2 linked regions of the Homo sapiens genome follow. The gene in region 2 interacts genetically with the main gene of each other region. Each region holds a gene or a part of one and is shown on either strand. Other genes may lie near its edges.

The links.
Region 1: of NEUROD1 (region 2) and CCND1, changing one suppresses a phenotype caused by changing the other (phenotypic suppression), as found in Homo sapiens cells (one study listed by BioGRID).

The regions. Positions count from the first base shown.
Region 1 is NC_000011.10:69,644,093-69,651,164, forward strand, and holds part of CCND1 (G1/S-specific cyclin-D1), read left to right. Parts: intron 1-3,901; coding exon 3,902-4,050; intron 4,051-7,025; coding exon 7,026-7,072. UniProt on the Homo sapiens protein: Regulatory component of the cyclin D1-CDK4 (DC) complex that phosphorylates and inhibits members of the retinoblastoma (RB) protein family including RB1 and regulates the cell-cycle during G(1)/S transition.
Region 2 is NC_000002.12:181,677,462-181,685,373, reverse strand, and holds the start of NEUROD1 (neurogenic differentiation factor 1), read left to right. Parts: upstream 1-4,856; 5' UTR 4,857-4,944; intron 4,945-6,502; 5' UTR 6,503-6,513; coding exon 6,514-7,584; 3' UTR 7,585-7,912. UniProt on the Homo sapiens protein: Acts as a transcriptional activator: mediates transcriptional activation by binding to E box-containing promoter consensus core sequences 5'-CANNTG-3'.

The DNA.
Region 1 (7,072 bases), on a different chromosome or scaffold from region 2:
GTCCCCAGACCCCCTCCTGCGCTGGAGAGCGCTCTTCCAGCTCTGGTGAGCAGAGGCCCTGGATTGTTTGTCGCGCTGGATGGAGGGAGATTTGCTCCCTCACGGCCACCATGCAGTACCTTGGGCATTGGTGTGGACGGCTCAGCCTGCCTGTGTCCCGTTACTCTGGCCTCGTCCTTCAGGCCAGGCAGCCTGTGGCCACTCCATGCTGAAAGGGGTTTACCTTGGCCACAGGGCCGCCTCCTTTCTCCACCCACCTCCAGCCCTTCTTGTGTCCTTAAGGAGCCTGAGCTGCAGAGGCCCCCTCCTGGCCTCTCCCAGGCTGGGCCACCTGCCAGAGGCGCCTCCAGGGGCGGGGAGAGCTGTCGGCCTGCCTGCACCACGTGCTCTGGGCAGCCGAGTGCAGGGGTGTCCAGCAGAGGAGCTCGGCTGCCTGAGGCCCTGCCAGGGGTGCCGGCAGCCAGCCGGGCTCAGCTGAGCCCTGAGGGGGCGCTTCAGAGCACTCTCAGCTTGGGCCGCCACCGTGGGCAGCAGAAGCACCCAGTCCTCACTTCCCCTGGCATGGCCCCAGAGGCCCCTCCCTGACATGGCCTTGGCCCCAGAACCCAGTGGGGACAGACTCGCACATACACAGGGTGCCGCCTCCTGCTGTCCCCAGCCCTGCCTCTGACCCCCCTGTGACCGCCTCCTTCCCTGGCCCAGGAGGCCTGGTTACCTTCATGGGGGAGCATGGCCCCATCCCACCCAGCTCTGCTGTGGCCCACCTTTGGTCAAGCCTCAGTTGTCACATCTGTTTGGGGGCTCACTCTGGGTGACCTAGGCCACAAGGCCCACGGGGCATCAAAGAGGCAGTAGCATCTTCTCCCCTCCCCAGAGGGCAGAGCCCCCCAAGCCTACTTCAGAGCTCCCTTCTGACACCGGTAGCCCGCAGCCGGTATTCCAGAATGGGTTCTGGTTTAGGCGTGAGGCCTCCCCCACCTCCTCCACCTGCTTGGGGCATGAACCCCTCCCCCACGTTTCCAAGCGAGTCCCCAAGGTGGGCAGATGAAGATGCCAAGGATGTCGACCAGTCTGGATGGGTCTGGGGTGGGGGGGCATGCGGCAGACAGGGAGGCATTCTCTGGCTGGTGCTCCTCAGAGGAGAGAGGCCTCCGGAGACTCCAGACAGCCTTTTATGGAGCTGAAAGTGGCTTCAGAGAAATGCAAAGTTTCCTGGAGAGAACGTGGGGCGTGGTTCTTGCACAGCCTCCCTACAGGGTGGCTCCAGCAGTGGAGCTCCCCTCCCAGGACCCCTGGGTGCTAGTGGGAGGCAGTGGGCAGGTGCAGATTCTCGTCCTTCCCACTACTGCACACCCTTTGTCTGCGAAGGCGCCCCCAGCGGTGGGTGAAGGAGGAGGGACACTTGGGGACCCAGCTGTGCACGTGCTCTCAGTGACTGTGGAGTCCACTCCAGGGTGGGTCCCGAGGGAGGGGCAGGAGACCAGGGGACCCACCCCTGCAAAGTGCTCCGGGTCCTGACCCGTGGCCACCCCATGGAACGTAACTGAGCAGCCAGTGCCTTGTTCCTGCTGGACATCTGTGGAGACAAGAGTGACTTACGGCTGCTTAAAGTCAGAAACAGGTTGAAGGAGGTGGAGGCGTGGGAAAGAGTCTAGGAAGGTGTTTTTGCCCTCCACGTGGCAAAGGTTACATTTAAAGGTGATGCTGGGTGTTCTCCCTGCACTAGGCATTCCTGGCCCCAGGTCCCCAGCAGGTGTGCACATGCTGCATACACTCACGCATGGGGGTTTCAGGGCAGGTGCGCCCTTGGCTCCGTGGGAGGCCAGGTGAGGAACGTCCAGTGCCAAGGAGCTTCCGGGACAGCTGTCACTTCCCTTTACAACCAGGCAGCGGATAGGGTCAAATCCTGGAGCTTTGGTGTCTAATTCTGGGTGGCTCCTAATCTAAGCACAGACAGCACCACACACTGGGGTGGGGGCACGAGCTTCTGAAACAACGTGGCCCCAGTGACTCCACGCTGTGTGTGCCCCTGGAGACGGGGGGGTGCACAAGGTGCGGAGCCAGCTAGAACCTGTCGCTCCCTGCAGAAGCGGTTTCTGTGTGCGGTTCTGATTTGCCTCAATGAGAAGGTTTTCATTCATGGCTCCCGGCTCTCAGACTGGGTGGAACTGCTCCCATTTAAAGGGGAAAAGAGGTGGCTCGGCTCGTTAAGGATTTCTTTTTCTAAGTTGTTACGGCGCCCAGCAGCCGGCTTTGTCTCCCCTTCAGGGTGGCTGCCTTTCTTCCCGGCCCCTCGCCGGCGGCCCTCTCTTTAACAAGGCCGAAGTTGTTTATTCTCTCGGGATGAAGTCTCGGATGGGCCGCCACACCCCTGGCGGCCCGTGGGGGCCCCTCTCCCTTTGTGCCTGGGTCGGCTCCCATTCAGCTCCCCCGACCCCCCTTGTTCCCGGGCGCTCAGTGGCGCGAGATGAGGCGATGGGGCCGACAAAGATGCCACACTCATCCCTGCCGACGTCCGGCTCCCAGCCCAGGGCCCCTGGTTCCTGTGCAGAATTCCTCGTGGGTGTGACAAAAGGCTGCCCCCAGGCTCCGCTGGGGTGGGGGCCAGGCCAAGAGGCACATCCCACACTGGCCCACCTGTCCACGGTAGGCGCATGACTGCCCTGAGGAGGGGAGGCCGGCATTCCCCGCCACAAACCAGGACGTAATTGGTGGCAGGGCTCTCTGTGGAAAGAGCCAGTCTGCTGTTTGTCTAGGAGGTCAGTCACAGAGGCCCCGAGACGCCCACTACTGCAGCCTGGCAGGCGGATGAGCCCAGTATCTGGCAGTGACCAGAGGGAGTTTTGTGCAGACCACAAAGGCTGATGGGCCGCCCTAGATTGGTGTCCCTCTTGGAAGTGGGCCCAGATGTGCGGGACAGTCCCCAGGAAGCCCCAGGTGAGGGCACTGGTGCCCTCTTGGGAAAGCTGCTCCCTCCTGGGGCCCGGCTCCCGGCCCAGTCCTCCAGGGGTGTCCCATGGTGACTGGTGCTAGGAACCCCACACCTCTTCCCTTACTTGGGAAGTCACTGGAATTGTTGGGCTACATCAGACGGCCCAGAAAAGTGTTTTTGTCATCGGCCAGAAATAGGAGAGTTGTGAGTAGAGGGCCCGGGTGGAGTTGGGGTGTACTTGGTCTGTGCTCTGAAGGTCACTGTGACAGTCATGGTCCCATGGTAAGGGGCATGGGTTGCTGGAAGAGCTCTTCCTTCCCGAGTGAGCCAAGCCGGGCTCTCCTGGCGCCAGGGCCTGAGCCGCAGCCACACCACAGCCGCCCTGAAGGCTGCCGGCCAGGGCTTACCCCTCAAGGGACACGGAATGGCTTCATCAGTACCCTGCAGCCCCGTGGCCTGGCCCGGGTGGAGGCCTAGGCTTCAGCCATGCGATGTCCCTTCAGAATATGACTTGTCTGCAATCCCTGCTGCTGGGGGGTGGCAGGTACTTGGGGTGAGGGTTAGGGTCATAGAAGCGACATCTCTACGTCCTCATATTTGCGTCATCTAATTTTGTTTTTGTGAATACGTGATAACATTCACAAGGCTCAAGATGCTAAAAGGATGAGAAGGCAGTGATGTCCCCATCACCTGTCCTGTGTCTTCCCGTGGCTTTCTCTTTCCTTGGTTATGTTTGAGTCAACAGTGGGGCTGACGTTCCAGGAGGGTCCGTGGGCCAGGCTCTTGCTCTCCGAGTGCCCAGGGATGGCTGGAGGCTGAGGAGGGCCTGGATGTGGAGCCTCAGATACCGAGTGCTTCCCTTCAGGCCGGGCCGCTTGCTCAGAGCCAGCACACAGGGATGCCCGGATCACGGGGGCCCTGAGAGGGTCCCCTGCTCACAGCCTCCTTCCCTCTCTCCTTCTGCCTCAGATGTGAAGTTCATTTCCAATCCGCCCTCCATGGTGGCAGCGGGGAGCGTGGTGGCCGCAGTGCAAGGCCTGAACCTGAGGAGCCCCAACAACTTCCTGTCCTACTACCGCCTCACACGCTTCCTCTCCAGAGTGATCAAGTGTGACCCGGTAAGTGAGGGTGATGTCCCAGGCAGCCTTGCCGGGGCTTACAGGGGGAGACACCTAGTGCCACGGAAATGCCGAGGCTGGTGCCAAGGCCCCCAAGGGTGACAAGGTTGGGGCTGGGGCTGGGCCCCTCGGACCCCAGGCCACAGACTGACAGGGCACCGGCTTCTTCCACTGCTCCTAGAACTTACTGACTGGCTGGGAGGTCCTCACAGCCTTCTCACGTCCCCTGGGGCTTCCAGGAGCCGTAGAGTTTCTGGGCGAAGCGTCCGGGACGGAGGCCCCAGGCGGCCCCAGCCAATGGTCTGTGTGGTGATGGTGTGTGGGGTTAGGCCCAGGCGAGCTTTGTTTGGGCCACAATGTGCGTGGCCAATAAATAGATGCTTGAAAAGGGCTCCTGTGAGGTCCGAGACACCGGACAACGGGCGGATAGAGACAGCCTTGTTGTTTACGGCCTCTTTGAGAGGCTGCTGCTGTTAAACCCTGGGATGACTGTGTCTTTCTTCTTAAAAATGCCATTGTTTTATTCCCGAGTCTTTTCTTAAAGAAAGAATTAAAATGACAATCAAAAGGGTTTGTGGCATTTACCAAATTAGACCAGAGAGGTGGCCGGGTCAGCCGCCGGCCCCGCGGTGTGTGAGGGAGTGACCGCCTGACCCCAGCTTGGGGCTGGGTGGGCCTGCAAGACCCGTTTTGGCTCTGGCCTGGGCCGCCTCTTGGTGGTCTGCCCTCGAGCCTCCCGGGGACTCCGCACGGGTCTCAGCAGATGCTATCTAGGGTCCACCTGCCTGTCCCCTGCCTAGTGGTGCCTCTGTCCCGGGGACACTGGGAGTAGCGGCTGCCCAGCCCATGTGTGTCTCGGAAGAGGAAGAAGCTTTTTTGCCGTGGGACACCGAAGTTGGCAGGGGCCTCCCTTCTGTGTTCTCGGCCATGGCCTCCCTTGCACCCTGCCCCGTGTTATCCTTTGGGGGTGGTGAGGTGTCCTCACCCGCTGTAGGGTGGAGGCCAGCAGCCCGCAGCTCTCTCAGGAAAATGGCTCAGAAACACCATCGAGGCCTCCAGAAGCCCAGCAAAGAGAAAGCCCCTCCATCAAAATGAAACTCGCGTCTGCACTTTTCATTTCGAACTCCACGCCCTGAGTGAAAACCGCTTCCCCGCCAGGGGTGACTGCCCTGGGATGTTGCTGTCTTCGGGCAGTTGTGGGAAGTTGGGCGCTGGCCCTTATTTGAGTAGAGACCATCTTAACTAGATTGGAGGCACACGTCTCACAGCTGACAGACACACGGGGTGAAGTTACCCGAGGCGGAGTCCACTCTGCCTGATCAGCTAGTGACCAACGTAGCTGAGCCCAGACTCAGAAAAACCGTCCACAGCAGAGGCCCCTGCATTTTCTAGGGCGTGTTCTAGAATTTTCTTTGGTGGGTGGAATGTCCATCTGTGCAAATCGGGTGCGCAGTGCCACACACCAGTGACTTTTCGCGGAGGAGCGTGCTGCCTTTTTGGAGCTTCTGGCTGTGGGAGAACAGCTTTGTCCACCGGGGTAGCCTTGCAGGCAGCTGTGGGGCCAGAGGAATGAAGGAAGGTCCTGGAGTCTAGCTGCATGTGTGACCCTGGAGTGGGTCATGGGCGAGGGACGGGCCGCAGGTGAAGAATCCCTGGATGGAGCTGCCAGGCCCCTGGGGCTGAGAATTGAAGCTGGCTGGTGTTTTAGGTTGAACGTCAGGAGTCTTGTATCTCACCCCAGGCCTCTGGCCTCAGTTTCCCCATCTGTACAGTGGGACTGTTTGTGCAGCCAGCCCGGCCAGCTTCATTTGCCATGATGAGAATTTATCTGAGGGGCGGGAGAGGAAAGCCCTCCCTATAAAGGTACAGGCGCTAAAATGTCGTGACCTCAGTGGTCCACCTAAAAGTCGTTCTGGCCTGGGTCATCGCCTGTCGTGCTATGCCTTTGTCCAGCCCCTTCTGGTTGGGAGTTAAGTGGCACCTGTGCGGCACGTGGTGGGGCTGTGGCCCAGCCCTGCTCCTTGTGGAAGGTCTGTTTCCTGGGCTGCCTAGAGACTTGGCTTGAAGCCCTAGCGTGGCTTCCTGGCAGTTGGGACACACACAGCCCCAACACATGGAGCCGGTTCTCCATCCAGAAGCCCCCGGGCAGTAAGCAGCCACTTCAGGCTGCGTGGGACTTGCCCGTGGTGGAGCCTAGGAGAGGCCCCTGGCTGGGCGTGGCGTTCCAGATTTCACGGCTGCTCTTTCCCACTGACAGTGTGGTGTGGACGCTGCCAAGGGAGTCTGGAGCCCCAGAGGGTGGAGGTGCAGGACTTCCAGGAGCGTCCGTCGCACTCCACCCGAGGGCGAGCACCTCAGTGGCCGCAGTGGGTGGATGCATGCTGTGCCAGGCTGATGGCTGGCCCCGGGGCACAGGCCTGAGCGGGAGAGGATGGAGGGGAGGGATCAATGGTCCAGGTCCCCCTGGCCACCCAGCATTCATCCTCAGTCATGCACGGCCCAAGGCTTCGACAGCCATTGATCATGGAAGGCCAGGTTCACCTCAAGGGCTGCCACATGGAGAGGTTAAGTCTGAAAAGGCTGAAAAGGCAGGGTTCAAAGGGCCTCCTGTCCAGATCAGATGGCACTGAATTCCCCAGGGAGCTGGCACGGCCAGTGGGAACAGGCGGTGAAGGCGCTGTTGGACATGGGGACGGGCAGGGGGTGTGCAGGGTGGGCGGGCAAGCATCTGGTGTCTTGTGGCTCCAGAGACCAGGTGGGAGGTGGAGGCATTTGGTCCTGAGTGTCCTGACAGGTGATGGCAGCTCCCACATCTCGCTCAGGTTCAGAGGAGGCAGCATGGGCCGAGGGACAGTTTTTGGCTTAGTCTTGCTCTTATAAAGGCTTCCGGGTCATGGCACCTGGGAAGGGGCCCTCGCTGCAGGCCCCTTCTAAGGACCCCCTCTTCCCACCTCTCCCCACCCTCTCTCTCTCAGGACTGCCTCCGGGCCTGCCAGGAGCAGATCGAAGCCCTGCTGGAGTC
Region 2 (7,912 bases):
TCCCAACCCACTGCAGCAACCATTGTTCTTGCGACGCTCCGGCGCCGTCGGTGTGTCTCGGCTCTCCACTCCTGAAGCTACACACAGCTACCGAGGATTTTTGTTTGCTTGCTTCTTTCTATTAAGGCAAAGGTTGGCAAATAGCGTGTGCTTGTCAGTTCCCTGGCCCTGCGATCCCCTTTGGACAGCAAGCTGTTCCTCGATCCCCGGGAAACAGGTGTGCGCCCTCTGCTCACGCTCCTCACCCGAAAGCAGGTGCGACCGTGGACATACACTTAACACTCTCACACCCATCCACTTATGCCCACTTTCACATACACATTCACATTCATTGACACACACCTGCACACACTCATATGTTCACATACACACTAACAATCACACACTCATTATATGCACACACGATTTGCACACACATTCACATAATCTTGCACACACACGGATTCACACACGTACATTCAAGTGCAATCACACACTTTTGCACACACAGGGCATCGGACGCACGAGGCCTTGAGCAATTGTGCCCGTGACCTACGACTGCCAAGATACTCCTACTGAGTTGATTTTACGTTGTTGATTCTGAGTGTTGGATGGTTTAAGGAAAGCCCCTGGATCCTGACAGGGAATCAGAGACAAGTCCTTCCAAGGCCTGTGGGAGCCGACAAAGGAGCCACCAAAGCCCCGTCGGGACCGGGAGGGCATAAATAATAAATAAAAAGGCCCAGGCAGGCCGAGCTGGGGAAGCCCGGCACTAAATCACTCCCTAAATCACAGTCGCGTCGTGCTCCATCCAATAGCTCTAAGCGATTTGTGGGGTTGGGGGTTGAAATCAATTTTTTCCGTTCTCGCAGGTGCAATATGAATCAATTATCTTAATTAAGATTATGCCGCAAGCCCAGGAGATTTGGGGAGGATGGGTTTTGCGCTCGGGGCGACGGCGAGGCATTTTAATAGCGTCTCTCGTTGCTCTTGGCTCTCCCGGGTCGCCTGCCTGTCGAGCCTGGGCAGCTCCAGCCTCAGGCCAGGACCCGGGAGCCCAACTGCCTCCCCCGGGGCGGAGGCGCCGCGTCGGCGGTCTGGTCAGAACCCGCATCAACCCCCCTTCATCCCCCGAAGCTCTCAAGAGCCTCCGAGCTACCCAGCCTGTGCAGGACCTGCAGCTCTCAGCCCTCCGTTCCTGCGGCCCCTGAGCCCCACGGTCTCGCGGGCCCCTCAGCCACCCGGCCCCCTCACTCCGCTCTCCCGCGCCCAGGCCCCGACACCCCACTCCTAGGCAGGGCGGGGAGAGGACGCGGGAACCTCTCGAGGTCGGCCGGGCTGCCCTGGCCACACTTGATCCTTTCATTGAACGCAAACCTCCCTTTGCAAGAGCGAGCATCTGTTTCCCTGAGAAACAGGTCACCGCCAGGGACGCCGGCCCGGCCCCTGCGCTTTATCTTGGCCCTGTGAATGCTTCGCCCCCGACCTCCCGCTCCCCGCTTTCGCCTCCAGCCACACGCTTCCCACCCCCTACGTCCGGGCCACACGCCTCCATCCCTTCCCCACCCCCATCCTCCCACATGCCTCCCCCTTCCCCTCCGCCCGGCCCAGGCCACACTCCCCTCTCCCCACCCCTGGCCACACGCCTCCTCCCGCCCCCCTTCCCGCGGGCGCTCCGGCTGCCGCTGTAACGGCCGGGACGCCCGGCCCGCGCCGCGCGCTCAGAGCGGGGACCCGGGAGGCGGCAGATTTGGGGCATTGCTCGAGGGCAGTGAGTCATGAAAGAGGCTTTTGTTGTCCGCGCGTGCGGTTCGCGTGCCGCTGGGTAGCCTGCAGCGCCCAGTAGGGACGGGAGCTGGGGGAGTACAGCTAACGGGCAGCGAGGGGAGAGACAAAAAACTTAGGGAATCAGGAGGGGGAAAAGTGTGCAACCGTCCAAACAAGTCCAAAGAGAAGAAAATAAGGAGGAGGAGCGGGGCCGCGGAGAAGGTCCTCAGTGCTAAGCCCCGCCGCGCCTTCAGCTCTGTCCTCTCCGGGATCCGGCTGACTCTCTTCTCTCGCCCCAATTTCTCGCGCCTTCAACCCCAAACAAAACGCACCTCAATCCAGGCCGTGTCCAGGCTCCTCTTTTTAGGGCCTTACTACCCCGCATCTCCTGGGAGCCTCGCGGGCACTGGCTGAGCGTCGCGATGCCGGCGCCCCGGGTCGAAATTTTCCGCGCAGAGGAGGGTCACATCGGAGCGCTGCGGGATGGGAAGCCCAAGGACAGCTACCGTGAGACCCAACCTCAGCCCTGTCTCTGAAACATCCTGGAGTGGCCTTTCCTTTGTACAAATCTCCAGGCCTGAGCGAACAACGCGCAGTGGGATTAGAGATGAATTTATCAAGGGTAGAGGGAGGAAACAGACTAGTAATTCCCGCACTTTACGCATTTGAGTCTCCGTCTGGCAAAACACTCGGGCGTCCCTCTTGCTCAAGAACATCTGACTCCACCATAATTCTCCTGTATTGCACAGGATGTCGCGAACTGGAGGTTTCTGCTTTCTGGGGGTGAGGACAAGGATTTAGCAGAGGGACCTCTAGGCTACCCCTGACCTCGAAGCTAGCTGGAGTCCTTTCTCCCACTCCGTCCCCAGTTCTCCTCCGGAACTCCCCAAAGTTGGAAAAATGAGAGCCTAGGCACGAGTTGCATATGCCTGCGGCATAGTGTGCTGCCAGTCGGGGCAGCTGCCGGGTGAGGGGCAGTACTTAACCTGGCCCTGCCGCAAACGTCGGGCTGTGTACTATCTTCTAAGGGCTAGTACTCCGACGCCCTCGAGTTTTAGCCCAACACTGAAGATACAGACAGTACAGGGGTAAATCCTGGGCCCAGGCTCCTGGGTGAATTATTTTATCCTCCCCTATGCGCTTTGTCAGCCAAGTGAATGTAGAAAAGCAAGCAAAACTCCAGAACCCCACAACGATTCACGCCACGCTTCGGTGGCACAACTCTTTTCTTCCCCTTTTAGATTAGTACTGTGCAGGGAAGGCTGCACCTGCTACCTTCAGACACCGGGGATCTGGCTAGGACCCTCTTCCTCTACCCCTACTCTCTCCTCCCGTCCCCACCCTCTCCCAGATGCACCCCAATCCAGCCTCTCAACCCTGTCGCTGTTTGCAAACTCGAGGGATGTTTAGTGCAATTGCCTTTAAATAAGCAATTCACGTAAGAGGTATTTATTGCAGAGGGTTTCAGGTCTGGGAGGGGGTAAGGAGTTAGTTAATGAAGGATTAGAGGCAAAGCTGGGAAAGAACGAGTAGACAGGCCAGTTTCTTTCTTTCTTTTTAAAATCTATTATTCTGGAAAACCCTTGTTCGAAAAGAGTAAAGAATTGCTATTTGGGCAACAATATGGCTCCTTCAGAACTGGTCGAGAATTTCTGTGGTCTTTGCTTGACCTTCAAGTTGGGAGTTTCAAATCAGAGGCTTTGAAGTCTGGAGGAGTTCGCAGCCATTAATCCTTCCGGGGTTGTGCTAAAGGCGTTTCTAGAAAGAGATCGGAAAGACCCGTTCAGCACAGGCCCATTGCATCTTCTCTTTGAAAACGCTTGTCTGAATCAAGTATCTTATACAGACCCGAGACTGAGGGGAGCAAGAGCGCAGGTCCGGCTGTGGCGAGGTGTCCACCACCGTACTTGTGGTCAATGCCTGGACTAGAGAGCCGAGGCCGTCCAGGGCGGGCTGGCCAGGGAACCAGAAGCGTCCCTGGACTGGCTGAGTGAGGGTGCCCTTTCCAGCAACCCAGTGGCCATGGTTAAAAGGCAGAATACAACCGTCAAAGAAGTCCCCAGCTCCCACATAAGAGAGCGCAAAGGCCAATGGAACCAAGGCCTCCTCGCGAGAACTAGCTCGCTTTGAGGACAAGATCCTGGGGATGGAGGTGGGGACTGACGTAGTGAGAGGGTCTGGAGGAACAGTCGTAGCTGAAGGTCAGGACATGAAGAATTGCACGTATGGTAGGGATAGAATGGCAGGTACAACTTTTCTGTACTGAAGGAACTGGGAGAGGACGATCCGGTTAGGGAGGTTGGGGAACTAATCTCAACGCTGCGTTTACAGATGAAGCCGCTTTTATATGGCGTATATGTTTGCTTAGAGGGGCCGACGGAGATTAGGAGAAGCCATCCTTTGGCGCCAATGATCAAAGCGTCTGCCAAGGAGAAGAAGCCAAGGGATGGGCCTTTCAGAGAGGGCAAGGAGTCATGCTGCTCTGGATGCCAGTGTCAGGACAAGAAATCGAAAGGAGCGAGGACTCTTCACTGCGTGCCTCAGTCTCCCCGCTTCTGCCTCTTTCACCTCTGTCCTACTTCCGGCGCGAAAGCAGGCCACTCGCTCTGATCTAGACCTAGTTAACATTAGCTTTTCCCTTCCTTCCCTCAAATCCCCTCCCCCCTCTATCCCCGTCCCTTCTGCCGCCTGAAAGGGTTAATCTCTCCTGCGGGTAAAAACAGGTCCGCGGAGTCTCTAACTGGCGACAGATGGGCCACTTTCTTCTGGCCACAAAGGGGCCGGAATGGAGCGCTCCGCGGCATACAAATGGGCAGGTCACGTGGTTCCAGGCTCTTGGCTGGACCGGGAAGACCATATGGCGCATGCCGGGGAGGAAGGAGGAGGGGCGGGGGTAGGGGTGGAGGGTGAGGGGAGCGGTTGTCGGAGGAGGGCGGGAGACGAGCAAGGCGTGGGGAGAAGTGGGGAGGAGGGGAGAACGGGGAGCGCACAGCCTGGACGCGTGCGCAGGCGTCAGGCGCATAGACCTGCTAGCCCCTCAGCTAGCGGCCCCGCCCGCGCTTAGCATCACTAACTGGGCTATATAACCTGAGCGCCCGCGCGGCCACGACACGAGGAATTCGCCCACGCAGGAGGCGCGGCGTCCGGAGGCCCCAGGGTTATGAGACTATCACTGCTCAGGACCTACTAACAACAAAGGTAATTACAGTTCTTTCATTTTTTTGCCCCAGAATAGAAGCAATAACTGAAGACTGATGAACCTACATATTCTGTATGTGTGCGTTTGCGAGAGTGTGTATGTGTATTGAGACCAGCATCCCCCTCCATAATTGCCCATAAGTACTCACACATAATGAGTCGTGTCACTCAAGTACCCCCTGCAGGCTTTCTAATTTAAATTTTAAAAATTTGGGTTTCTTTTGTGGATAGCATAGGAGCTTCTTGGATTTTTTAAAAGAATGCACGGTAACTATGATTATCTGCTAGTGCTGATTTTAAAGTCCCAAAAGCAATAATGACTTCACTTTCTCACTTCTTACAGTAAGAAAAAAAAATCTATGTTATCAATATATATTTTGTGTGCATGTATTTTACGCACATTGGGAGTGTCAAGCTGTGTTTTCAGTGAATGAAAGGGACATGGATACCTTGAGTATTCACACCATGGAAAATAAATCAGGTTCAGAGATAGTTTAGTTGAGAGGGGGGAAAGTGGAGAAAGGGAGAGGGACTCACTCCTGCTACCTGTTACCGCTCCAGAGGCGGCCAAGTCCCCAGCAGCCACTACTGGAGCCAGAAATTCAGTTGTTTTACTAAAGGCTTTTTATTTTCCTTACTAGAAGCGGCAACTTCGCGGTTGCCAATCGCTGACCATTATAATTACTCAATCTTTTAAAGGGAGGTTTGAGGCGAACTTTGAAAAGCCCCAATAAAGAGCGGGCGGCCCTTTCAATGGGCTGTTTATTAGAGAGGAGCCTTCCGCACCTGATCCCCGGCGCGTGGGAGAGCGCTCTGCGCCGCGCCCCCAGCCCTCGCCCTGCAGCTAGCGCTTTTGTACAAGGTGGAAATTTAGCGGTGGGCCAGAGATGGAAGGCAAGAAAAGAAAGGCGAGGGAGGGGTGGAAGACCCTGTCCACTTTTGTTGCCAAATGTTACATTGATGGTGAAACAATTTGGTGGAAACTATTTTTCCTCCTTTCTGCATTTGCTTTTCAGTATCCCGTCGATGTAATCTTCTTAAAAATCGCTGCCAGTATTAGTAAATTACGCAATGGCTGTTCAACTTAAATCGCTAAGTATCTGGAAGCCAGGACAGAAATGGAAGTAGAATGTGTGATTTTACAGCTTTTTTTTTTTTTTATGGAGTTGTGAGTAACTTTGAACACATTTGGATAAACATGAAGTCGCTGAAATGTACAGTCATTTCCACACACATTATCCTGTCGGGCAACCACCATAAACACATTTAAGTTAATCACTAGGATACAAACACATATGCGTGAGTGGTGTACACATATACATATTCACTACCCTCCCCCAGTCCTGTCCTCACTCCTACGTACTAGCGGGGCACACGCACGCGCCATTATAAAACACTGCATTTAACTTTTTCTCAGAGGCATTCATTTTGTAATGGGCAGGTACTTTTCGCAAGCATTTGTACAGGTTTAGGGAGTGGAAGCTGAAGGCGTATCTGGCTTTTGAATATAGCGTTTTTCTGCTTTTCTTTCTGTTTGCCTCTCCCTTGTTGAATGTAGGAAATCGAAACATGACCAAATCGTACAGCGAGAGTGGGCTGATGGGCGAGCCTCAGCCCCAAGGTCCTCCAAGCTGGACAGACGAGTGTCTCAGTTCTCAGGACGAGGAGCACGAGGCAGACAAGAAGGAGGACGACCTCGAAACCATGAACGCAGAGGAGGACTCACTGAGGAACGGGGGAGAGGAGGAGGACGAAGATGAGGACCTGGAAGAGGAGGAAGAAGAGGAAGAGGAGGATGACGATCAAAAGCCCAAGAGACGCGGCCCCAAAAAGAAGAAGATGACTAAGGCTCGCCTGGAGCGTTTTAAATTGAGACGCATGAAGGCTAACGCCCGGGAGCGGAACCGCATGCACGGACTGAACGCGGCGCTAGACAACCTGCGCAAGGTGGTGCCTTGCTATTCTAAGACGCAGAAGCTGTCCAAAATCGAGACTCTGCGCTTGGCCAAGAACTACATCTGGGCTCTGTCGGAGATCCTGCGCTCAGGCAAAAGCCCAGACCTGGTCTCCTTCGTTCAGACGCTTTGCAAGGGCTTATCCCAACCCACCACCAACCTGGTTGCGGGCTGCCTGCAACTCAATCCTCGGACTTTTCTGCCTGAGCAGAACCAGGACATGCCCCCCCACCTGCCGACGGCCAGCGCTTCCTTCCCTGTACACCCCTACTCCTACCAGTCGCCTGGGCTGCCCAGTCCGCCTTACGGTACCATGGACAGCTCCCATGTCTTCCACGTTAAGCCTCCGCCGCACGCCTACAGCGCAGCGCTGGAGCCCTTCTTTGAAAGCCCTCTGACTGATTGCACCAGCCCTTCCTTTGATGGACCCCTCAGCCCGCCGCTCAGCATCAATGGCAACTTCTCTTTCAAACACGAACCGTCCGCCGAGTTTGAGAAAAATTATGCCTTTACCATGCACTATCCTGCAGCGACACTGGCAGGGGCCCAAAGCCACGGATCAATCTTCTCAGGCACCGCTGCCCCTCGCTGCGAGATCCCCATAGACAATATTATGTCCTTCGATAGCCATTCACATCATGAGCGAGTCATGAGTGCCCAGCTCAATGCCATATTTCATGATTAGAGGCACGCCAGTTTCACCATTTCCGGGAAACGAACCCACTGTGCTTACAGTGACTGTCGTGTTTACAAAAGGCAGCCCTTTGGGTACTACTGCTGCAAAGTGCAAATACTCCAAGCTTCAAGTGATATATGTATTTATTGTCATTACTGCCTTTGGAAGAAACAGGGGATCAAAGTTCCTGTTCACCTTATGTATTATTTTCTATAGCTCTTCTATTTAAAAAATAAAAAAATACAGTAAAGTTTAAAAAATACACCACGAATTTGGTGTGGCTGTATTCAGATCGTATTAATTATCTGATCGGGATAACAAAATCACAAGCAATAAT